Linked DNA regions of Homo sapiens: regions 2 and 3 are each linked to region 1. The links come from fine-mapping of genetic effects on gene expression. A gene starts in region 1. Each other region holds a variant in brackets. All regions are shown on one strand. Distances are between the middles of the regions.

Region 1 (8,004 bases):
AGTAGAAGAGGGGGAAAACAAGGGAGAAGTGGTGGGGAAGACTTGGTAGATTGGGGCCTTAAGTAACCACCTCCTTTCCCTCTCTGCCCCCATGACTTCCTGCTCCAAGTTACAGAAGGGAAGGAAACCATTTTACTCTTTTTATTCTGCTCATTAATGATCTGAAAGAAGAAGATGGGGAAAAGGGGATTCCACCACAAGGCTCCAAAGAACCAAGAGTGCAAATCAGTCCATTTCACTTTCACTGTCTGAGATAGGGTCTCTAAGACCCAGGATACAAGGGTGGAATGTAGCTATATGGACTCGATTTGCTTCCGGACCTTTTCCAGAGCCTTTCTGTCCAATTGTCGCTGACGAATGATGACAAGACAAGCGAAGATCAGGGCCACACACACGACAGCCCCTTCGAACTTCCAAAATAAGCGTTGTTCCATCAAAGCTGAGCGGCAGCTGAGGGCAGGAAGGAATAGTTATTCCCAAGGAAGGCCAGACAGCTTCTCCCTCTAATTTCCCTTCTACTTCAGCCTAGCCAGGATACACTCAAGAGGAAATCAGAGCCAGGCTTCTATTGTGTGTATAGTACATAAATCCCTCTCAAATAGATCATTTAATTTATTCTCTGGATAAGCAGAGCTAGTATTAACCAATTTTACTGATGAGAAAATATGGCCAATAACATAGTGCTGAGGAGTAGAGCTGGGACTTGGGTTCAAGTAATTTGGCTCCAAATCCCGTCTTCTTTCTTATTATTTTTGAGATGGTGTCTCGCTCTGTCACCCAGACTGGAGTGCAGTGGCGTGACCTTGGCTCACTGCAACCTCCACCTCCCGGGTTTAAGCAGTTTTCTGCTTCAGCCTCCCAAGTAGCTGGGATTACAGGTGCCCGCCATCATGCCCAGCTAATTTTTGTATCTTTAAGAGAGATGAGGTTTCACCATCTTGGCCAGGCTGGTCTTGAACTCCTAACCTCGTGATCCACCCGCCTCGGCCTCCCAAAGTGCTGGGATTACAGGCGTGAGCCACCCCTCCCAGCCTCTTTTTTTTTTTTTTTTTTTTGACACACAGTCTCGCTCCATTGCCCAGGCTGGAGTGCAGTGGCATGATCTTGGCTCACTCTAACCTCTGCCTCCTGGGTTCAAGTGATTCTCCCTGCCTCAGCCTCCCAAGTAGCTGGGATTATGGGCACCCACCACACCAGCTAATTTTTGTATTTTTAGTAGAGATGGGGTTTCACCACGTTGGCCAGGCTGATCTCGAACTCCTGACCTCAGGTGATCTGTTAGCCTCAGCCTCCCTAAGTACTGGGATTATAGGTGTGAGCCCGGCCCCCTCTTCTTTCAGATATTCCATGCTACCCCCAGACCAGGGGAAAAGGTGGGACCATCCATCTAAAGTCATAGGAGCAAAGGAGGTGATCTCAGAGAAGAGAAACAGCACTCACCTTTTGAACTCATTTCTCTTAGATGAGCTGCATGTGATTTTCTCTACATATCCTGTGGGACCACACTCAGGGGTAGTTTTCTGCCAGGAGAAAAGGAGCAAAGTACATGTTAGGAAGGGGCAACAGGATAAACAAAAAGGCTGCCATTCAGAAGGTGCAGGTGCCCAACTGCTATGGTTTGGAGTGGTAGGCAACAGAGAGCTAATGAAAGAGTTCTGATGCGGATGGTGGAGGTGGTGGTTGCATGATTACGAATGTATGTTAGAACACTTCAGGGGCAACAGTCTAGGAGTGGCAAAGATACATTCCATTCCAGAGCCTACTATACTAAAAGTGAATAAAACATAGTTATTTGAGGCCGGGTGTGGCGGCTCACGCCTATAATCCCAGCACTTTGGGAGGCCGAGGCGGGCAGATCACGAGGTAAGGAGTTAGAGACTAGCCTGGCCAACACAGTGAAACCCGAGTCTACTAAAAATACAAAAATTAGCCAGGCATGGTGCAACGCGCCTTTAGTCACAGCTACTCAGGAGGCTGAGGCAGGAGAATCGCTTGAACCCGGGAGGCGGAGGTTGTGGTGAGCCGAGATCTCGCCACTGCACTCCAGCCTGGGCAACAGAGTGAGACTCCGTCTCAAAAACAAACAAAAAAACCATAGTTATCAGTTGAATACTGCCATTAGCTTGGAAAGAAAGGGGCACATTTTCAGGGGAAAGACAAGTACAGATTTGGACATACACTGAGACTGCAAGAAGAAAGAAAAAAAGATGATGCAAAGGCAGCTTAATAAGACTTGGATGTTAAGATGTTGCTTAAGTGTTTGCTTAGATGTTTAAAAAAAAAAAGGGTAGAGAAATAGATACTCACAGCCCGGAAATTAGAGCATGGAGAGCACTCTTCTGCTACCACAAACTCTTCCACCAGCCAGCATGGCAAATTTGAGGTGCTTGCTGAAAGGAAAGATAAATGCCAGCCCCAGGCCATTCAGAAAACATTTCTCCCAGGCTCTGCCCATCCAACTTCCCGGCACAGCGCTTGCCCTCATTCCATGTGGTGCCGGCCTTTTCCACCTGTGCTCTTGGTATATGGGGAAGATACTAAAACCAAAAACAAACGACGGGACGTGTCGGGTTCCCAGACAATCACCCACCTGACAGCTTCTCTTCCTGCACGGGAGCCTCTGCTTGGCTGTAGCGGAGTTGGGGGAAGGGACAAAAGTCAAAACCCAGAAAATAGGGCACCCCCTCCTGCGCTGTCCATGGATAAGATCTCCCCCAGCCCCGAGGCCGGGAACGATCCTGTCCTCCAGTGACCTCCTTTTCCCTCCCCTTACCTCCTCCTTACCAGAGCTTTAAGGTGAAAGCACAGAGCAACCAGCAGAGGTGGCGGCCCTGGGGGAGGCCAGGCCTCCCGGCACCCGCAAGCATGGAGCGCCAAGTGTCGCACCTGTCGGAACAGAGGGACCTACTCCACAGGCCTCGTGCCTCCGTCGGAGCGCAGAGGCGGCACTTACTCTGCAGCCCTCCCAGAGGTTCCAGGTCAGGGCAGGGAAGGCCGGAGTTGCCTATTGGAGCAGAGGATCTATCAGGACGTCCCCGTTGCCACAGCGAGAAAAATCGATATGTTTTTGCGGGCTAGGGAGGCGAGCGCCTTCTGCGGGGTCCGCAGGGCGCTGGAGGAAGGGCCGGCGGGGGCTCGCGGCCCTAGCGCCCGCTCACCTCCGCTCCCGCCCCCGACGCAGCCATCTAGCCCCGTGGAGGATCCTCGGGCGCGGGACCGAGCTCGGGGCCCGGTGTTCCCGGGGGCGTTCGGTCGTCGCCCGCTGGGGCTTATAGTCTTCCGCGTCGGTGGCGCCTCGCCTGCTGCTCACTGGGAATTAGCTCGGCGCCCCGTTGCATTGTGGTCTTGGTAGTCTTTGCGAGAACGGCAAATGGCGGTTGCAGAGGCTCGTCCGAATTCTCGGCTCGCTGCTCCCTGGCTGGCGCGTGTTTGTTCATTCTGGGCTAGGTGAGCAGGGACAATACGTCGCCCTCTCAGGACTTTGCTCTCTCCTTAAAACCCGAGGATTCACCGTCAAGCTTCTGGTTTCTCTGACATCCTTCCCCAGCCGCCCCTTCATCGCCACCGATGATCCAGTGGAGAAGCTGTGTTGGAGGTCAAGGGATGGAGGCGAAACTGCGCGTTCTCGTCCCTGCAGAAACCGGAATATCCGAGACACATGACGAACATGAAACTTTCTCCTTGTCTCTTGGCTCCCACTCCGCTACACAGATGAACGGTGTTACCTTCCCTCATGTTACTTTGCTAAGCCTACTCCTCAGAGCTGGTCCTTTGCATAACCTCTTCAAATGCTCTCAACTCTCCCTTGCTCCTACATAATGGAGTAATCATAAGTGCAATGAGAAAAGCATGAGATTTGAAGTTCCATAAGTATTGAGTCTAGGTTCTGGTGGTTATTAACTCCATGATCTTAGGAAAGTATCTGTCAGTGTTCTGTGTAAAACGGAAATGCTAATGTGTATTTACCAGGACTTTTTCTTGCGAGAGGCAGATGAAATGTATCTCCGTTTCATGAGTAAGTTCAGAGAATATAAGTGACTTGTCCAAGGTCAGCAAGCTAATGAGTGGGAAAGCTGAGGCTTGAGCCTAGACTGTCAACACCCAGGCCAAAGATTCATTGCCTGCTTTTCATCTTATGGAGTTAAACCTTGATACACACTCAGATCTGCAGTGACTTGACCAGCACTGTGGGTTCATGCTTTACTGTCTGATAACGAATTTTCATTTAATTTTATTTTTTTTCTTAGACAGGGTCTAGCTCTGTCACCTAAACCTGATGAGGGCTGAGCCTTCATTTCGCCGTTTTTTGTTTGTTTGTTTTTGTTTTTGAACGAGATGGACTCTGGCTATGTTGCCAGACTGGAGTGCAGTGGCAAGTCACAGGAGCCATCATAGCGCATTACAGCCTGGAACTTCTCGTCTTCAGGGATCCTCCCAAGTAGCTGGGATTTCAGGCATGTGCCACCATACCTGGCTCTAATTTTGAATTTGTTTCTTTAAATTATTATTTGTGTTTGCTGAAATTGTGTGTGTATTATTTTTGTGTATGTGTGTGAGTAGTTATATGTTACATAAAGTAGGTTGTGGGGTTTTTTCCAGTAATGTTTAGCTATAATTGAAGTTTGGGCCGAAATCTGCTAGTATTTGTTACTCCTCACCAAATCCTACCTTATCTCACAACAAACTGTAAGATCTTGTGATATTTCACTTCCAATAACCTTACCAGGCATCAGAGTGGGGTCTCTACTCTGAAATTAAATATCTGCCATAAGGTATGTTGAAGACGTTAGTCTCTTTCCCAGGAGGCACAAAGTGCAAGTCTTTTCCTCATCGCTTGAGCAAATTAAACCTACCGGACAGTTTACTACAGAACTCAAACACAGCTGGGCGCAGTGGCTCACGCCTGTAATCCCAGCAATTTGGGAGGCCGAGGTGGGCGGATCACCTGAGGTCGGGAGTTCAAGACCAGCCTGACCAACATGGAGAAACCCCGTCTCCACTAAAAATACAGAATTAGCTGGGCATGGTGCCATATGCCTGTAATCCCAGGTACTCGTGAGGCTGAGGCAGGAGAATCACTTGAACCCGGGAGGTAGAGGTTGCGGTGAGCCGAGATCACACCATTGTACTCCAGCCTGGGCAACAAGAGCAAGAATTCATCTCAAAAGAAAAAAAAAAGAACTTAAGCATAAGCCACAAATAAGGTTTATCATTACCTCATCAATGCTTGGATACTTACATTTATCAAGTTATTACATTTTGCTGTGTAAAAAATATTATGTATGGTGAAAGGGGGATATATATATATTATGTATTAAAATATGTATTATATATTATATATTAAACATAATATAATTATATATAATTATATATTAAACATAATATATTATATATTAAATATATAATTATAATATATATTTAATATATATGTATAATATATAATTATATATTATATATAATATGTTATATGTTTATAAACATATACATGTTATATATATTATATATTTCCTATATATTTAATATATAATATATATAATTATACATTGTAATATATAATATAATATAATATATATATACTTAAGGATGCTGTGCATCAAGCCTGAATTTTTTTTTTTTTTTTGAGATGGAGTTTCGCTCTGTCTCCAGGCTGGAGTGTAATGGTGCGAACTCTGCTCACAGTAACCTCTGCCTCCTAGGTTCAAGCGATTCTCCTCCCTCAGCCTCCCAAGTAGCTGGTATTACAGGCACCCACCACCATGCCCAGCTAATTTTTTTTGTATTTTTAGTAGAGATGGGGTTTCGCCATGTTGGCCAGGCTGGTCTCAAACTCCCAACCTGAAGTGATCCACCCACCTCGGCCTCCCAAAGTGCTGGGACTACAGGCATGAAACAACGTGCTCGGCCCAAGCCTGAATTTTCTTTTGCATTTCCAGTAGTTTTGCCATCTTTGTTATTCAGCAAAGAGATGTTTTTGTTTTCGTTTTTGTTTTTTTGAGACAGAGTCTGGCTGTGTCACCCAGGCTGGAGTGCAGTGGTGTGATCTCAACTCACTGCAACCTCTGCCTCCCAGGTTCAAGTGAGTCTCCTGCCTCAGCCTCCCAAGTAGCTGGGACTACAGGCGCCCTCCACCACTCCTGTCTAATTTTTTTTTTTTTTTGTATTTTTAGTAGAGACGGGGTTTCACTATGCTGGCCAGGCTGGTCTTGAACTCCTGTTGTGATCCACCACGCCCAGCCAAAGAGCTGTTTTTGTTAAAGTTTGCTTGTCCCAGGCTGGGCGCAGTGGCTCACGCCTGTAACCCCAGCACTTTGGGAGACTGAGGCAGACTGATCACTCGAGCCCAGGCGTTCAAGACCAGCCTGGCCAACATGACAAAACCCTGTCTCCACTAAAAACACAAAAGTTAGCCAGGTGTGGTGGCACGTGCCTGTAATCCCAGCTACTCGGGAGGCTGAGGCAGGAGAATCGCTTGAACCCGGGAGGCAGAGGTTGCAGTGAGCTGGGATCGTGCCACTGCACTCCAGTCTGGGCGACAGAGCCACACTCGGTCTTAAAAAAGAAAAAAAGTCCTTGTCCCTCTGCTTGTAAGTACCACCAAAGGGCTATATTAACTGACTATTGGCCAGGCATGGTGGCTCACGCCTGTAATCCCAGCTACTTGAGAGGCTGAGGCAGGAGGCAGAGGTTGCAGTGAGCTGAGATCGCACTATTGCACTCCAGCCTCGGAGACAGAGCAAGACTCTGTCCCTAAAAATAAATGAATAAATAAATAAAATAACTGACCATTGTGCCTGGCACTTAGTAGATGCTCAATATACATATATGAATAAATGAACTTCTCATTTTCCTCACTAATAAAAGCAGATATTAATGCCTATCAAATAACTAAATGGATTGCTGGCAGAATCAAAGAAGCTTGCACAAATCACTGGATAAATCACTAGGTGCAGTTATTTCCCTGAGGCTAGGACTGTTAGAGTTCTTCTCGCTGGGAATTTCCTGTGCTCAGGACAAGGCTCTGCCCACAAGGGCATCCGGACCCCATGGCGGAAAGAGGATATCCAGACCTTCAGATCACTCTACCTCCTGCTCTTTGCTATTTTCCTTACCAACAGAACAGCTAGGGAAGAGACAGCAGTAGGATTAGTCCTGGTTCCACAGAAACCGAGCCTGATTTGGGTAAATCAATCACTTTGAAGACACAATAATTGGATTTGAGTGGAGAACAATTCTGACAATAATCCAAGTTACCCAAAACAGGAACATTTGTGCAAATGGTGGCCTTTAATACCAAGAAAGACCATGACAAGTGACAGAACAGGAGCAAATTCCCTAGTGTAGTGCCGAGCTAGCCTTTTGCAGGACCCTAAAACCTGATCTAGTAACAGAATAAATCAGTGTATTTACATTTATGTTTGCCCTGAAAACCCAGGTAAGGTCTGAAGCCTGAGGCATCTCTCCTTCCTTTCCTCCTCCCTCTCTTCCTACCTCCTTGCCTTCTTTCACTTCCTCAATTCATTCCTCTCCCTTCTCCCTTCCTCTCTCTTCCTTTTTTTCCTTTCTGCTTTTCCCTTTTCTCCTTTTTCTCCTCATTCTCTTTACCATCTACCTATGTGACCCTCCAAGCCCCTCTGCTATTTCTCCCCTGCTCACTCCCTCTGCCGTTGTCTCCCTCAGGTTCAGCTTCCGGGGTGGGGAGGCAAGAAAGGGTCCTCAGCCCAGGGAGCACTTGTTGGTGTTCTTCTTGTCACAAGTTTTCAGGTCAGTACTGGGAGGCTTGTTGCCGTTTCCCTAGAGGGAGAAGGGCACAGGTGTCATGGTGTGAATGGATGGTTAGGGTAGGAGGGTATAAACTGTTTAAAGTAAATCCACCCTCATGAGAAATCTTAGCATTGCTCCCCGTTTTTATCAACACCAACACACACACACACACACACACACACACACACATACATACACACACACACACCCCAGAGTTGTACCTAGTCCAGCAAAACCAACTTA
Region 2 (8,004 bases), 26 kb before region 1:
TGAGCCATGGCGGGAACAGTGGGTCAAGTTCTGGTGGTTGAAGGTGTGGGGATCCTGGGGGCCACCCATTGGCCCCTCACCCCCTAAAAATCCAGGCCCTTCAGAAAAGCCAGGGGGATCCAGCACCAGGCTGGCTGATGGGCTCTCCATGCTGAACTGCTCCAGCTATAGACATACAGACAAATCTTTAGGAAGTAGGATTTAGAACTGGTGTCCTGCCTAGCCCTGCTAACATATCCCCTTTGCCCAGCAACCTTCATCCACCCCAGGAACAGAGGCAATGACAGAGGGAGGTGGCAGCAAGCAGAGCGACAGAAGCGAGCACGGGGCCCGAAGTAAGTATGGGCACCGTACCTGCTGGGCCAGAGCATGTGCATGCCAGGAAGAGAACGGGTCAAGGCAGAAGTCATCAAAGAGCAAGCTGAGCAGAAATAGAGGGGCAGGAGTAGGGTCAAACGCAGGAAGAGAGGAGCCCCAAGCTGGCAGTGCTATGTTACCTCCGGGGAGAGGAGATCTCCCCACCACCCACCCCACCTAGATCTCCCCATTCACAGTGCACCAGCCATGCCATTCAGGCCCCATTGACCCACCCTCACCCACTCCCCTGCTTTTGAGCAAGGAGCCTGAGTACTCACATTCCCCAGGTTGAAGTCACTCATTGGCCGGTGGTAAGACTGTTGCCCATGCCCACTGGGCCCAGGTGGGTACGGTGTCCCATAATGAGACTGCCTGCCTGGGGGCTGCCCACCTGAGGACTGCACTGAACAAGACTGAGAGGGCAGCCCTGGCTGCTGTAGAGACTTTGGGGTGTGGGGCTGGGTAGGCAGAACCAGACTTGGGGAGCTGTATGGGTATGGGGGTAACCGCTGGTCAGTGGACAGTTTACTGGTATCCAGGGGGACGCCCTGAAAAGAAGTAAAAAGAGGGAAGCTTACTGCTCAGTGTATACCCCAAGAACTCTCAGTCAGAGCTTCCCACCTTCTTTAGCTACAACCATTCCCAAAACAAACATGACAACATTCCACATTCTCACGGGCATCCCTGGGGTTGAGTGCAGTTACTCAACCCCAGGGATGTGTATTAGTTGGCAGGGTGTGGTGGCTCATGCCTGTAATCCCAGCACTTTGGGAGGCCCAAGGCAGGTGGATCACCTGAGGTCAGGAGTTCGAGACCAGCCTGGCCAACATGGTGAAACCCCGTCTCTACTAAAAATATAAAAATTAGCTGGGCATGGTAGCAGGCGTCTGTAGTCCCAGCTATTCGGGTGGCTGAGACAGGAGAATTGCTTGAACCCAGGAAGTGGGAGGTTGCAGTGAGCCAAGATCACACCACTGCACTTCAGCCTGGGCAACAGAGCGAGACTCCGTCTCCAAAAAAAAAAAAGTGCCTATCAGAATGAAAGTGATATAGTGAGGCTAACACAGGGGTAATTTTAAATCTACTCCAGAAGTAAACTATTCTCTTTTTTTGAGACAGGGCCTCACTCTGTTGCCCAGGCTGGAGTACAGTGGTGCAATCATAGTTGGAACTGTAGCATCAACCTTCCTGGTTCAAGTGATCCTCCCATCTCAGCCTCCCCAGTAGCCAGGACTACAAGCGTGCGCGACTGCACCTGGGTAATTTTTTATTTGTTGTAGAGACTGGGTCTCACCATATTGACCAGGCTAGTTTTGAACTCCCGCCTTGGCCTCCCAAAGTGCTGGGATTACAGGCATAAGCCACTGTGCCTAGCCTTAGAAGTAAACCATTCTTAAATCTTGATACTTGAACTATTTATTGTTAGTAAATAAGGAACTAAGGTTGAGAACTGCTGTTCTACAGCCTTGAAGAGGCCAGAGGGGGTGGGAAAAGAAAGAAAGAAAAGGAGAAAGAAAGGAAGGGAAGTCAAGCTCACTCCACACTCTGGGAACAGAGCCCTTGCTAATCTGGCCTCAGTCTTTCCTACAAAAGAGGGGACCTGAGTAAAGATGGAACACAGAACACACATTCCAGGGATAGCAATGGAGGAGGAAAAGTTGGGCAGAGGAGAGGGAAAAGAGCATTTGGATGAAAGAAAAGAGGAGTAGAGATAGAGAACAAGAAGAAAAGGACAGGAAGGGAGACAAGGGCTAAGAATTTCATCTCTGTGGAAAAAGCCCTAAACTAAGAGCTTCGAGTTCTAGTCTCAACTCTTCCTAACTTGCTGGGTAAACTTGGAAAAGTCACTTTCCCTCTAGGTCCCACTTTCCTCATCTATTAAGTGAAGGAATTGGGCTCCACAGTAGGAAATTGACTGATTCTACGAATTCTATGAAATTAGGAGGGGATACAGGGGAGGAGACGGGACAAGATAGAGGCATGAGATAAAAGACAGATATAAAACAGACAGGAACAGAGGAGGCAAATAAAAGGAAAGGGTAAGCTACTATTTGTCAAGCATACCTGGGCTATGTGTGGTGCTAAGTATTTTATGTATGTTACTTCATTTGATCCTTATGAACCATCCTTGTTTTAGAAATGAAAATACTGAGGCTTATAGAAATTAAATAACTTGTCCAAGGTGACTGCTAGTAAGAGGTGGAGCCAGGGTTTGAAGCTAAAAAAGCTTAACCACAGCGTTTGGGTTTGCACTGTGAAGCAAGAGGAGACAAGATGGATAAAAGATGGGGCAGGCGGAGGACAGAGGAATGGAAGGGGATGAGTATAGAGTAGGTATTTCAGGAAAGGAGGGTGGGAGGGAAACAACATGGCAGGAGAAAAGGGAAGGGAGACAGACATGCAGGGAAGGCAGCCACGCATACCTGAGTGATGGAAGACAAGGTGGGTGACATTGTTGGCGAAAACTGTTTGGGCAGCTGCTGTTGGGACCTTCTGGCGTCGGCTGGGCCCGCGAGCAAACTCAGGGGGCTGAGGGGCACACGGCGGTGGTGGGGGGAGGCCCCAGGGGTAGAAGCAGGGTAAGAGGGGGCGCCCAAAACAGGAGATGAAGTGGAGGAGGAGGAAGAGGAGGAGGAGAGAGCCGGAGCACTGAGTGAGGGGTGGCCCAGGGAGGTGGTGGGCAGTACATGGCGGGCCAAGGAGGAGGCAGGCAGAGAGGGGTGGCTGTGGGAGCCCTGAAGCTGGGGCTGAGGACTGCTCAGGGAAGCCTGGAGGTTGGGATTGCTTAGGGAGGACTGCAGGGATGGGTGGCTGAGAGGTGAATGAAGTCCTGCAGGCACAGACAAAAAACCAGAGATG[C/T]CAACATTACTGATGGGAACTGAGCCCCTTTCCACCCAGAATGGGTGGCAGTGACCAGACTATGAAAGCGGCAACACAACGTCCTCCCTACTCTATCCCTGACAGCACTGCCCATCTGGGGACTGCCCTTCCTCTTCTTTCTAGGAAACACCACACCTACCAGTTATCACTGGCTGAGAACTGCCGTGAGGGAATCCTGGGGTGCAGAGGTGACAGGCGGTGTGGGTGATCACAGCAGGATCTCAGGTGCTCAAACCTACCTCCCCTTCATCCCTCCAGTCAGGCAGCACCCAGTGGGCACATGGCCAGGACAGTCACTCACCTGGTGCATCATAGCCTGGGCCCAGGCCCATGCCCCTGCTGATGCCCAGGTGAGTCATGGTGTGGGTCAAATTGGAGGTACTGTTGCCCCCACTCAGGCTAGGGTAGGCTGTCTCTTCAGGGTCCAGGGGGGTGGGCAGTGGTGGGGGAAAGTGCAGGTTGGTGAGGTCAGGTAGGGAGCCCCCCGTGTTCATGGCAGGTGGGAGGACAGGCACATTGGCAGGCTGGTCAGGAGATGGAAAGATGCTAGGGGAAGGAGAGAAAAAGAAAGATGTAAATAGGAGGGTGGGTGCAGTGGTCAGGGAAGAGCAGAGATCAGTCTCCTACATCTCCCTGTACTTCCTTCCCCCACCTCTCAGCCAACCTCAGGGAGTACTTACTTAATTCCAGGGACTTCACAGGACCGAGGTCGGGAAGAGGATGAGGATAGCTGAGGAGAGAAGGGAGAATATGGAAAATGAGGACAGTGCTCAGCAGAGAACCCTGGAAGGCCTGCCCCATGGCAAGGGGATAGCAGAGAGACTAGTGGGTGACACCCGGTGGCCTCCTCCTACCTTCTTAGCATCCCATGGCTTCAGCAAATGCTTGTCATCTAGCAAGTTCTCCTCAATAGCAGGTACTTGAAAGAGAAAGACTGGTGATGGGAGAGTTGGAGAAAGAGCCAGTAAGGCAGGACAGGAAGCAGAAGCAGGTGGGAAGGAGTCCTGCTCCCTGAACCTGCACACAATCCCAACACCAGCCCAGAAATTCTTTGGCATTCAGTACCCACAGCAGTGAGGAACACATACCTTTGGGGTCCATTTCACCATCCAGAATACCTGCAAGGGATACAGTGGCATTGGCTGCAGTGCTCACTTGCCTACCTGCTTTAAATAGCTCCATGGAGGCCGGGTATGGTGGCTCATGCCTGTAATCCCAGCACTTTGGGAGGCCGAGGCAGGTGGATCACGAGGTCAGGAGTTCAAGACCAGCCTGGCCAAGATGGTGAAACCCCATCTCTACTAAAAACACAAAAAATTAGCCAGGCACAGTGGCAGATGCCTGTAATCCCAGCTACTCAGGAGGCTGAGGCAGGAGAATCGCTTGAACTCGGAGGGCGGAGGTTGCAGTGAGCCGAGATCACGCCACTGCACTCCAGCCTAGGCGACAGAGTGAGACTCCGTCTCAAAAAAGAAAGAAATAATAAATAAATAAATAAATAAATAAATAGCTCCATGGTTACTCCCAACCCTGGGACAGGGCCACTTACCCCCACGTCGGCTGGGCAGGATGCTGGGAGGTGTGGGGCCTGGGTAGGTATCCTGGGGACTGGGGTTCATCACACTTGTATGAAGGGCAGAGTCAGAGCTTGTCCTATGGGGGGAGCAGGAATGAGCTGACACCAGTGACAGTCTTCCTGGTCCCTAAGCCCTGCCCAGCAAGGGAAAACACTAGCTGGTCTGGAACAGGGTGGGGGTGAGGGAGCAGGGCCCCAGAAACTACAGATAAGAGATCTGGCCTAAAGAAGGCAAAAGCCATCACCTGTTAAGTGCAGATGGTAGTCGAAACAACTGCCCCTTCTCTGCAGGGAAATTGCCCCAGGCCATCGTCCTGGGGTAGAAAAACAAAGTCATGAGGAGGAAGGCTGGCAGTGGACAAGAAGGTGGGCATAGGGGTTGGAAAATGTGGGGCAGCTAAGGTGGAAGTAAAGATGGCTGAGCACCCAGATCATCCCCTTTTCTTTCTGGTTCTTCTCCTGCCTATGATTGACCCCTCCCCCAGTCAATCTAAGAGAGCTGGAAACTTCTCTCTGCCAGGACCAGCTGAATGGGAATCTTGGAGCCCAGCAGCATTCCTGGGTATGAGCATTGAAAGTGAGATGGACAAGGGGAGAGTTTAAGAAATCTAAAAGTGCCAGAACACTACATCTTGCACCCACCCTTGACAGAAGGTTGCCATTTTCACCTGCCCCTCTGCCATTCTCCCCTCCCCCTTACACACACACCCCAGCCTGGCTATGGTTCCCATTGGTTCTGCTCTGGCTGGACTGGGAGGCTTGACCACTAGTGTCAACATGGCCAAGGCTGGACTCTGACCCACCTACTCCAACTGTCTCCACCTCTCTCAGCCCTGGCGTTATAGGAAGAGGTACTGTTGAAACCTTAGCCCAGTAATCCCAGCCCCAACCCAGAAGGGGCAACTCCTTCCAGAAACACGTCAGAGAGTAGGCAGGAGCTTCTGCCCGCCCTGGACACTTACCTTCGCCAGCTAGACTCTGGGGGAGGAGATAAGTAGGCAGGACTATAGGGAGAGCTGTCAATGTGAACAGCACCAGTTAAGGAAAAAAGTAGAGAGGACAGATGAGAGAGGCCAAATGAGGAAAGAACAATGAAGGCAGCAGATAAGTTGTTTCAAGAAACTCATACCTTTCTCCTCTTCTATAAGGGACAACAATAGGATCAAAGAATGGAAGAGAAAAAGGGAATCAGGTCTAAAGGGGCTGAAAAAATCCAGGAGAATGTTCAGGCAGGGCTTGGAGGAGACAGTTATGCAGGTCTCTGAGACTGAAAACTTAGAAATCTGAGAAGAGACCCAATCTCCTTTAGCAGGAGACAAGGAAGGCTTGCCTCTGGCAGCAAGCTGATGTGAAGACAGCCAGAGCCAGCCAGAGACAGGGGGCACAGCCTCAGGAGCAAAACTCCTTGTCACAGGAGCAGGTGCTGACGCAGGGGCTATGGTCGCTTTTCAGGGAAGCTGGGTAAAGAAGAGCTCCAAGAGAAGGAAGGGACGCACAACACTTCAAGTGCTTCCTATGAGTCCCTGAGGAACCCCATCCCACTACCTTTCAGACACTCCCAAGTCCCCTGTGAAGGATATGTGGCGGGTGTATCGGCGAAGTGGGGACACCATTCTTCGAGGATCTCGCTGCACCCGTTCCACCAGCCCATGGTGCCGAGTGCTCCGAGATGAATCCAAAGGTGAGTGGAGGGGGCTCTGCCAAAAAGGACAGAAGTCAGCAGAGGAAGCAGCCTAAGAAACTCCACTCCTCCCTGGCTGGGGTCTACTCACCTGGAACTCGGCCAGGCCAGAGCCAATCTGGTTAACATTGGGCAGAGACCCACCATAATGAGAGCTCCTTGTGTATGCCAGTCGCAGTTTTTGGGCCTGTAACTGAGACATGGGGAACAAGTGGGAATGTCAGGAGGGTCCTGAGCACTATTTCCTTCAGCCATCCTTGCCATCTCTGTCACCAGGATATGCTGCTGCCGCCACTGCTTTTAAAATATCTAGGCCAGGCACAGTAGCTCACACCTGTAATCCCAGCACTTTGGGAGGCCGAGGCAGGCGGATCACAAGGTCAGGAGATCGACACCATCCTGGCTAACACCGTGAAACCCTGTCTCTACTAAAAATACAAAAAATTAGCCGGGCGTGGTGGCGGGCGCCTGTAGTCCCAGTTACTCGGGAGGCTGAGGCAGGAGAATGGCGTGAACCTGGGAGGTGGAGGTTGCAGTAAGCCGAGACTGTGCCACTGCACTGCAGCCTGGGCAACAGAGAGAGACTCTGTCTCAAAAAAAAAAAAAAAAAAAAAGGATCACTTCAGCCCAGGAAGTAGAGGCTGCAGTGAGACATGTTTATGTCACTCCACTCTAGCCGCCTGGGTGACAGACTGAGATCCTGTCTCCAAAAAAAAAAAAGTTAAAAAAAAAATAAAGAAATTATCTGCCAGAAAAAAAAGGCCAGTGTTGGGGTTTGAAAGGTCCACCGAGATTTGGTGCAAATAACCCACCAGAGCCCATCTGCAGACTGCCCTCATCAATGATATCACTACTGCTTGACATCATCCTGCCAGGCAGAGACAGATACTCTGCTGAGGGCCTGTCTCATTTGGCATCACTCTAAGCAGAGTCCCTGAGGGGCTGCCAGGAGCTCCCGGGCTACTCACAAGGGGGAGTGCCTATTAGGAACCTCTGCTTTCTTTCCAGATGCGTCCAGGACTAATTGAGAGATTAAGAGGAAGGCCACAGGTGGATGTCACAGAGCCATTACTGCCAGCCTCTTTCCTTCCCACTCTGGAGAGCACAGGCTTCTGGGCTCTGCCACTTGCCCAGCCTCAGGAAGGCTACACAAAGCCTGCACCTCCCAAACTAGAACATCCAAGGAATAGCAGCTCTCCTAGCTGGAAAAACAGCACCAAAACCAAGGGACATTCTTCCACTGAATCCTAAGGCTCTTGAATTGGCAGGGAAGCCTGGAGAAGGAGGGTGGACAGAGAGCAGCAGCCCACTCCAGCATGGGCCAGGGCCATCTTCCTGGTCTCATCCTCACTTTGGGGAGCTATGTCTGGCATAGGCGTAAGACAGCCTGGCATGGGTTTAGCCTGTGTACAGACATCCTGTCTCTGTGAGAGGTGAGCATCTATTTCCAAGGCTCAGCCCCTGCGACCAGCCAAATAAACAGGCCCAGGGCAAGGCCATGGGGAGGAGG
Region 3 (8,000 bases), 73 kb before region 1:
CCACTGAACTCCAGCCTGGGCAACAGAGCAAAATTCTACCTCAAAAAAAAAAAAAAATTTATATGTTTGTATGTTAAGGCTGAGGCACAAGAATCGTTGGAACCCAGGTGGAGAGGTTGCAGTGAGCCAAGATCATGCCACTGCACTTCAGCCTGGGTGACAAAGCAAGGCTCTGTCTCTAAATAAATAAATAAAACTATCACATCTCCAAGGCAAAATGAGAATCAGGAACTTTAATAACGAGAGTGATGCGTAGAGGGGAAGTGCATTAGAGTTAAATTTATTCAAGATGAGACTTCACTGGACAACACCATTTTGATACTTCCATGAAAGTTAACTAGCTGATTGATTTTTCTTTGGTTAAAATGTCCAACTGCGCCCGATGGCTCACACCTGTAATCCCAGCACTTTGAGAGGCCGAGGCAGGTGGATCATCTGAGGTCAGGAATTTGAGACCAGCCTGGCTAACATGGTGAAACCCATCTCTACTAAAAATACAAAAATTAGCCAGGCATGGTGGCGTGTACCTGTAATCCCAGCTATTTGAGAGACTGAGGCAGGAGAATCACTTGAACCCAGGAGGTGGAGGCTGCAGTGAGCCACGATCGTGCCACTGCACTCCAGCCTGGGAGACAGAGCAAAACTCTTGCTAAAAATAAATAAATAAATAAATAAATAAATAAATTAAATAAAATGGCCCTGGTGTCTACAGCCATACCACCCTGAACGTGCCCGGTCCTGTCTAAAATGGCCTTGGGGCAACAGGGATAATCAGGAGGAGAGCAGGGGCCAATCAGACTCCGTCTCAAAAAAAAAAAAAAAAAAAAGGCCGCGCACAGTGGTTCACACCTGTAATCCCAGCACTTTGGGAGGCTGAGGCAGGCGGATCACCTGAGGTCAGGAGTTCGAGACCAGCCTGACCAACATGGAGAAACCCCATCTCTACTAAACATACAAAATTAGCTGGGCATGGTGGCACATGCCTGCAATCTCAGCTACTCAGCAAGGCTGAGGCAGGAGAATCACTTGAACCCAGGAGGCGGAGGTTGCGGTGAGCCAAGATTGCGCCACTGCGCTCCAGCCTGGGCAACAAGAGCGAAACTCCATCTCAAAAAAAAGAAAAAAAGAAAAAAAAAAGAATTTTCAGGATTTGGTAAGCCTATCATACTTACAGCCAAGGTGTAAAAAGTGCTGAATGAGGGTATAATTCCTACTTAAGGGGTACTTGTTCCTAATATGCAAGTTACTTAATTTACAAACATATTATACCTAGTATTATAATTATTGTATTCCTTTTTTTGAGACAGGGTCTCACTCTTGTCACCCAGGCTCGAGTGAAGTGGCTCAAACATGCCTCAATGCAGCCTCAACCTCCCGGGCTCAAGGGATTCTCTTACCTCAGCCTCCTGTGTAGCTGGGACCACAGGCACATACCACCATACCCTGCTAAGTTTTCTTATATTTTTTGTAAATGGGGTCTCACTTTGTTGCCCACTCTGGTCTCGAACTCCTGGGCTCAAGCAGTCCTCCCACCTCAGCCTCCCAAAGTGTTAGGATTACATGTGTGAGCCACCAAGCCCAGCTGCAGTCTTTTAATACATGTAGTCTTTAGTCTACTGACTGCATCTTCTTGTAATTTATCTTTATATCCTCTAACGTACCTATGTTTATATCTTTTACATACTACTTTACATAGTAGGCATACAAGAAATGTTATGTGGAGGCCTTTGCAGTTTCCCACAACCAGCAGATTTAAGTGGTTACAGCCGGCCGCGGTGGCTCACGCCTATAATCCCAGGACTTGGGGAGGCCGAGGCAGAGGGATCACAAGGTCAGGAGATTGAGACCATCCTGGCTAACACGGTGAAACCTGATCTCTACTAAAAATACAAAAAAATTAGCCGGGCGTGGTGGCGGGCGCCTGTGGTCCCAGCTACTCGGGAGGCTGAGGCAGGAGAATGGAGTGAAACCAGGAGGCGGAGCTTGCAGTGAACCGAGATCGCTCCACTGCACTCCAGCCTGGGCGACAGAGCGAGACTCCATCTCAAAAAAAAAAAAAAGTGGTTACAAAGTAAGCAGCTCTGACAAGCAGGACAAGAGACCAGACCCAAGTTTTCTCTCTATCAGAACAATTAACTATCATTTTTCGAGACAATAGGCCTAAGACAGAGAAAAGCATCTGGAATCTTCACTCCAGAAATTGGAAAAATAAACTCATATCATTGCTCAGAGCCCTGGATTTTCTGCCATAGTTTGAGATTCAGGATTACAGATGAAATTATAAAATAAGACTTCATGAACTAGGCAATCAGCATTCCTAAACTAAGTTTAAATACTTTAAAGTACTTTTGAGTACTAGTAGTACTCAAATTGTTCAATGTTAACAAAATAATAGCGATGAAAATCATTAAATAGCAGAATTGTAAGCAACAGGAAAAGTACAGAATTTCTGTTAACAGGACATATTACAATATACCTAAATACTCTTTACCATATGCCTAAATATTCTTTCCCAATAAAGTTCTAACATTGGCCAAGTGTGGGGCTCACACCTGTAATCCCAGCACTTCGAGAGGCTGAGGCGGGCAGACAGCTTGAGCCTAGGAGTTGAAAATCAGCATGGGCAATATGGCAAATCCCCTCTCTACAAAAAATACAAAAAATTAGCTAGGTATGGTGGCACGCACATGTGGTCCCAGCTACTTGAGAGGTTAAAGTGGTACAATCACCTGAGTTCGGGAAGTGAAGGCTGCAGTGAGCCGTGACTGCACCACTGCACTCCAGCGTTGGCAACAGCATGAGACCTTGTCTTAAAAATAAATAGATATGCCAGGCCCGGTGGCTCACGCCTGTAATCCCAGCACTTCGGGAAGGTAAGGCGGGTGGATCACGAGGTCAGGAGTTCGAGACCAGTCTGGCCAACATGAAGAAACCTCAGTCTCTACTAAAAATACAAATATTAGCCGGGCGTGGTGGCAGGCATCTGTAATCCCAGCTACTTGGAAGGCTGACGCAGGAAAATCATTTGAAACTGGAAGACAGAGGGTTCAGTGAGCCAAGATTACGCCACTACACTCCAGCCTGGGTGAAACACTGAAACTCCATCTCAAATAAATAAATAAATAAATAAATAAATAAATAAATAAATATTAGCTTGTATATGTATAAAGAAACTCTAATATGATAGAAATGGAAAAACAGTGATGGGGTTTAAAACTAGGAAGTTAAAAGACAGTGACAAGAAAGTTTTCACTCTATATCTTAATTTTTTAAAATGTGAAAACAAACTTTAAAACAAGAAGAAAGTGCTCCAACCATAACAAAATGATTCATTTATAAGAGCAAAGATGTATGGAGCAACATAATTTTTCTTTTTGTTTTTCTTTGAGAGACAGAGTCTCGCTCTGTCACTCAGGCTGGAGTAGAGTGGCATGACCTCATCTCACTGCAACCTCCACCTCATGGGTTCAAGCAATTCTCCTGTTTCAGTTTCCCAAGAAGCTGGGACTATAGGCGTGTGCCACCAGGCCCAGCTAATTTTTTTTTTTTTCTCAGACAGAGTCTCTTGCTCTGTCACCCAGGCTGGAGTGCAGTGGCACATCTCGGCTCACTGCAATCTCCGCCTCCCTGCTTCAAGCAATTCTCCTGCCTCAGCCTCCCGAGCAGGTGGGATTACAGGCGCCTGCCACCACATCTGGCTAATTTTTCTATTTTTAGTAGAGACGGGGTTTCATCATATTGGTCAGGCTGGTCTCGAACTCCTGACCTCAGGTGATCTGCCTGCCTTGGCCTCCCGAAGTGCTGGGATTACATGCATGAGCCACCGCCCTGGCCCTAATTTTTGTCTTCTTTAGTAGAGACGGGGTTTCACTATATGTTGGCCAGGCTGGTCTCGAACTCCTGACCTCAGGTGATCTGCCTGCCACAGCTTCCCAAAGTGCTGGGGTTACAGGCATGAGCCACTGCACCTGGCCAAGAGCAACACAATACATAAAGAAAAATACCCAGCCTGACCAATATGGTGAAACTCCGTCTCTAATAAAAATACAAACAATTAGCCGGGCGTGGTGGCAGGCGCCCTGTAGTCTCAGCTACTTGGGAGGCTGAGACAGGGAGAATCTCTTGGACCCGGGAGGTGGAGGTTGCAGTGAGCAGAGATCAC[G/A]CCACCGCACTCCAGCCTGGGTGACAGAGCCTGACTCGGTCTCAAAAAAAATAAGAAAAATACAGTGATTCAAGGGCCTAGGTGAAATAAAAACTATCTATAACTGAGCAGAATCCCATTCAGATTTTTAGCCCAAAGTAAAAAACTATGTGAAAAGAAAAACCCATCCTAAAATTCATATGGCATCTCAAGGAAGCCCAAACAGCCAAAACAATTTTGGAAAAAAAAAAAAAAAAAAAAAAGAACAAAGTCAGACGACTCATTCTTCCTGATTCCAAAACTTACTACGTAACTACAGTAATCAAAACAGTGTGGTAGCCCGGCATAGTGGCACCTGCCTGTAATCCCAGCTACTCGGGAGGCTGAAGCAGGAAAACTGCTTGAGCCCAGGAGTTTGAAACCATGCCTGGGCAACATAGCAAGAACCAGTCTCTCAAACAAAAAAAAAAAAAGCCGGGTGCAGTGGCTCACGCCTGTAATCCCAGCACTTTGGGAGGCCGAGGTGGGCAGATCACCTGAGGTCAAGAGTTCGAGACCAGCCTGGCCAACATGGTGAAACCCTACCTCTACTAAAAATACAAAAATTAGCTGGGTGTGGTGGCATACATCTGTAATCTCAGCTACTAGGGAGGCTGAGACAGGAGAATCGCTTGAAACTGGGAGTCGGAGGTTGCACTGGGCCGAGATCACGCCACTGCACTCCAGCCTGGTGACAGAGGGAGGTTCCCTCTCAAAAAAAAAAAAAAAAGCTCCCCTCCCCCGCACCCCACACACACACACACAAAACAGTGTGGGGCCAGGCGTGGTGGCTCATACCTGTAGTCTCAGCACTTGGAGAGCCAGAGGCTCTCTTGATCTCACTTGATTTGAGGTCAGGAGTTCGAGACCAGCCTGGCCAATATGGTGAAACCCCATCTCTACTAAAAAATACAAAAATTAGCCAGGTGTGGTGGCGTGTGCCTGTAGTTCCAGCCACTCGGGAGGCTGAAGCAGGAGAATCACTTGAATCTGGGAGGCAGAGGTTGCAGTGAACCAAGATTGTGCCACTGCACTCCAGCCTGGGCGACAGAGCCAGACTCTGTCTTAACAACAAAAAATTAACACAAAATATTGTTCTTTTACAAGTTGCTGTAACACATTTACAGCAATACAAAAATGATACAATACAAAAAGTAAATTTAAAAAAATGAGAAAAAACACAAAATAAATGAAAGACTAAACAGAAGAGCTAACACTCTTAGATGCTTCATGATGTTGGACTTGACAATGATTTATTAGACACCAAAAGCACAGGCAAAAAAGGAAAAAAAAACAACAGATAAACTGGACTTCATCAAAATTAAATTTTTTGTGCATCAAAGGACACTACAGAGTGAAAGGGCAACCCACTGAATGAGAATCATATATGTGGATAATGGATTAAAATCCAGAATATACAAAGAACTCCTACAACTTAGAAACAAAAACAACAACAAAAACCCAATTAAAAACTAAGCAAAGGATCTGAATAGACATGTCTCCAAAGGAAATATACGAATAGCCAATAAGCACCTGAAAAGATGATCAACATCACTAATCTTAGGGAATTACAAATCAAAACCACAATGAGACAGCACCTCACATCCACTAGAATTCCTATTCAAAAACAAACAAACAAAAAATAATAACAAGTGTTGGCAGGGACGTGGAGGGACTGGAACCTTTGTGCATTGCTGACAGAAATGTAAATGATACAGTTACTGTGGAAAACTGTAACAATTACTCAAAAACCGAATTATCATGAATTATCATGATCTAACAATTTCAATTCTGGATATATATCCTATACGCAAAACAATCGAAAGCAGGGACTCAAGCAGATATCTGCCCAGTCATGTTCACAGCAGCCTTGTTTGCAACAGCCGAAGGCGGAAACAATCCAGATATCCACCAACCGATGAATGGATAAACAAAATGAGATATTTACATACAAAGGAATATTATTCAGCCTTAAAAAATGAAATTCTGATACATGCTACAACATGGATAAATCATGAAGATATTTTCAGTGTAATAAGCCAGACACAAAAGGACAAATGTGGTATGATTCCATTTATATGAAGTACCTGAAGTAGTCAAATTTATAGAAACAAAGTAGAATGGTGACTGCCAGGAACTGCGGAGAGGGGAGAATGGGAGTTATAGTTCAATATATACAAAGTTTCAGTTTGGGAAGATGAAGAAGTTCTGGAGATTAATGCTGGTGTTGGTTACACAACATCAATGTATTTAATGCCACTAAACTGTATACTTTAAAAGGGTAAATTTTTTTTTTTTTTTTTTTGAGATGGAGTCTCGCTCTGTCACCCAGGTTGGGATGCAGTGGCGTGAGCTCGGCTCACTGCAACCTCTGCCTCCCAGGTACAAGCAATTCTCCTGTCTCAGCCTCCTGAGTAGCTGGGACTACAAATGCCTGCCACCACACCCAGCTAATTTTTTTTGTGTTGTTTGAGATGGAGTTTTGCTCTGTCACCCAGGCTGGAGTGCAGTGGCATGATCTCGGCTCATTGCAACCTCCGCCTCCTGGGTTCAAGCGATTCTTCTGCCTCAGCCTCCTGAGTAGCTGGGATTACAGGCATGCGCCACCACGTTCAGCTAATTTTTGTATTTTTAGTAGAGACTGGGTTTCACCATGTTGCTAAGACTGATCTTGAACTCCTGACCTCATGATCTGCCTGCCTTGGCCTCCCAAAGTGCTGGGACTACAGGCGTGAGCCATCACGCCCAGCCTAAGATGGTAAATTTTATGTTATGTACATTTTAACACAAACACACACTCACGCACGCACACATCTATGTGCCAGGTTTACCATTATCTTTTTTACAAGAATGACTAACAGGCTGGGTACCATGGCTCATGCCTGTAATCTCACCACTTTGGGAGGCTAAGGTGGGAGGACTGCTTGAGCCTAGGAGTTTGAGACTAGCCTGGGCAACACAGCAAGACCCCATCGCTATAAAATTTTAAAAAATGAAAAGTAAAACATAACTAACATTTACTGGACATTTACAATCTGTCAGGCACAGAGAAGTTAAGTAAAAGATCTTACAACTAACTAAACGGTGGAGCAGAAATTTGAACCCAGGACTTTTTGACACCAGAAACATACTTTTTTTTTTTTTGAGACGGAGTTTCGCTCGTTGCCCAGGCTGGAATCCAATGTCGCAATCTTGCAACCTCCGCCTCCCGGGTTCCAGCGATTCTCCTGCCTCAGCCTTCCCAGTAGCTGGGATTAGAAGCATGTGCCACCACGCCCAGCTAATTTTATGCTTTTAGTAGAAACAGGGATTCTCCATATTGATCAGGCTGGTCTTGAACTCCTGACCTCAGGTGATCCGCCCGCCTGGCCCTCCCAAAGTGCTGGGATTACAGGTGTGAGCCACCGCACCTGGCCTAGAAACATACTTGGAAAAAAAAAAAAAAAAAAAAGAAAGAAAGAAAGAAACAAGGTTGTGTTTTATCCCCAAGGCTGGAACACAGTGGTGCAATCCTAGGTCACTGCAGCCTCTAACTCCTAAGCTCAAGCAATTCTCCTGCCTCAGCCTCCCAAAGTGCTCTGGAACACGGATTACATCTCAGCACTTTAGGAGGCCGAGGTAGGAGGACTGCTTGAGCCCAAGAGTTCGAGACCTGCCTGGACAACACAGCGAGATTCCCATCCCCACAAAATTTATTTTAAAAATTAGCTGGGTATGGTGGCATGTGCCTGTGGTCTCAGCTACTTGGGAGACTAAGGCGCAAGAATCACTTGAGCCCAGGAAGTGAGGGCTGTAGTGAGCCATGATCACACAACTGCAT

Alleles and levels. Positions count from the first base shown, and alleles are read on the strand shown. Sizes are in standard deviations (SD) of each study's normalised expression.
With allele T in place of C in region 2, the expression in tibial artery of the gene that starts at base 3,289 in region 1 is lower (large effect, 0.75 SD a copy in GTEx).
For the expression in thyroid of the gene that starts at base 3,289 in region 1, A is the low allele of the variant in region 3 and G is the other (large effect, 0.95 SD a copy in GTEx).

Evidence for each region.
Region 2: its variant is fine-mapped to the expression of JTB in tibial artery (GTEx, PIP 0.93).
Region 3: its variant is fine-mapped to the expression of JTB in thyroid (GTEx, PIP above 0.99). The same link has a PIP of 0.9 or more in aorta, caudate, fibroblasts, left ventricle, spleen and testis.

Annotation. Positions count from the first base shown.
Region 1 is chr1:153,974,386-153,982,389 of GRCh38, forward strand. It overlaps JTB (jumping translocation breakpoint), which reads right to left and starts at 3,289. Exons shown (of 5, transcript NM_006694.4): 1 at 2,785-3,289; 2 at 2,591-2,628; 3 at 2,308-2,390; 4 at 1,441-1,520; 5 at 1-450. The coding sequence starts at 2,867. The coding sequence ends at 294. It overlaps RAB13 (RAB13, member RAS oncogene family), which reads right to left. Exons shown (of 8, transcript NM_002870.5): 8 at 7,265-7,791. The coding sequence ends at 7,714. It overlaps JTB-DT (JTB divergent transcript), which reads left to right and starts at 3,358. Exons shown (of 1, transcript NR_186180.1): 1 at 3,358-4,775. RefSeq lists enhancers at 1,461-2,110, 2,760-3,408, 3,410-3,459 and silencers at 3,130-3,179, 3,468-3,762.
Region 2 is chr1:153,948,480-153,956,483 of GRCh38, forward strand. CRTC2 (CREB regulated transcription coactivator 2) reads right to left here. Exons shown (of 14, transcript NM_181715.3): 2 at 6,586-6,687; 3 at 6,394-6,510; 4 at 5,776-5,837; 5 at 5,059-5,127; 6 at 4,787-4,890; 7 at 4,326-4,355; 8 at 4,092-4,156; 9 at 3,918-3,967; 10 at 3,539-3,783; 11 at 2,781-3,187; 12 at 636-905; 13 at 1-165. Among named protein-coding and RNA genes, the nearest start is that of DENND4B, 5.8 kb to the left of the region's middle. The variant C/T (reference allele first, on the strand shown) is at 3,217.
Region 3 is chr1:153,901,172-153,909,171 of GRCh38, forward strand. The region is part of intron 1 of GATAD2B (GATA zinc finger domain containing 2B); the gene reads right to left. Among named protein-coding and RNA genes, the nearest start is that of GATAD2B, 18 kb to the right of the region's middle. RefSeq lists an enhancer at 3,502-4,003. The variant G/A (reference allele first, on the strand shown) is at 4,163.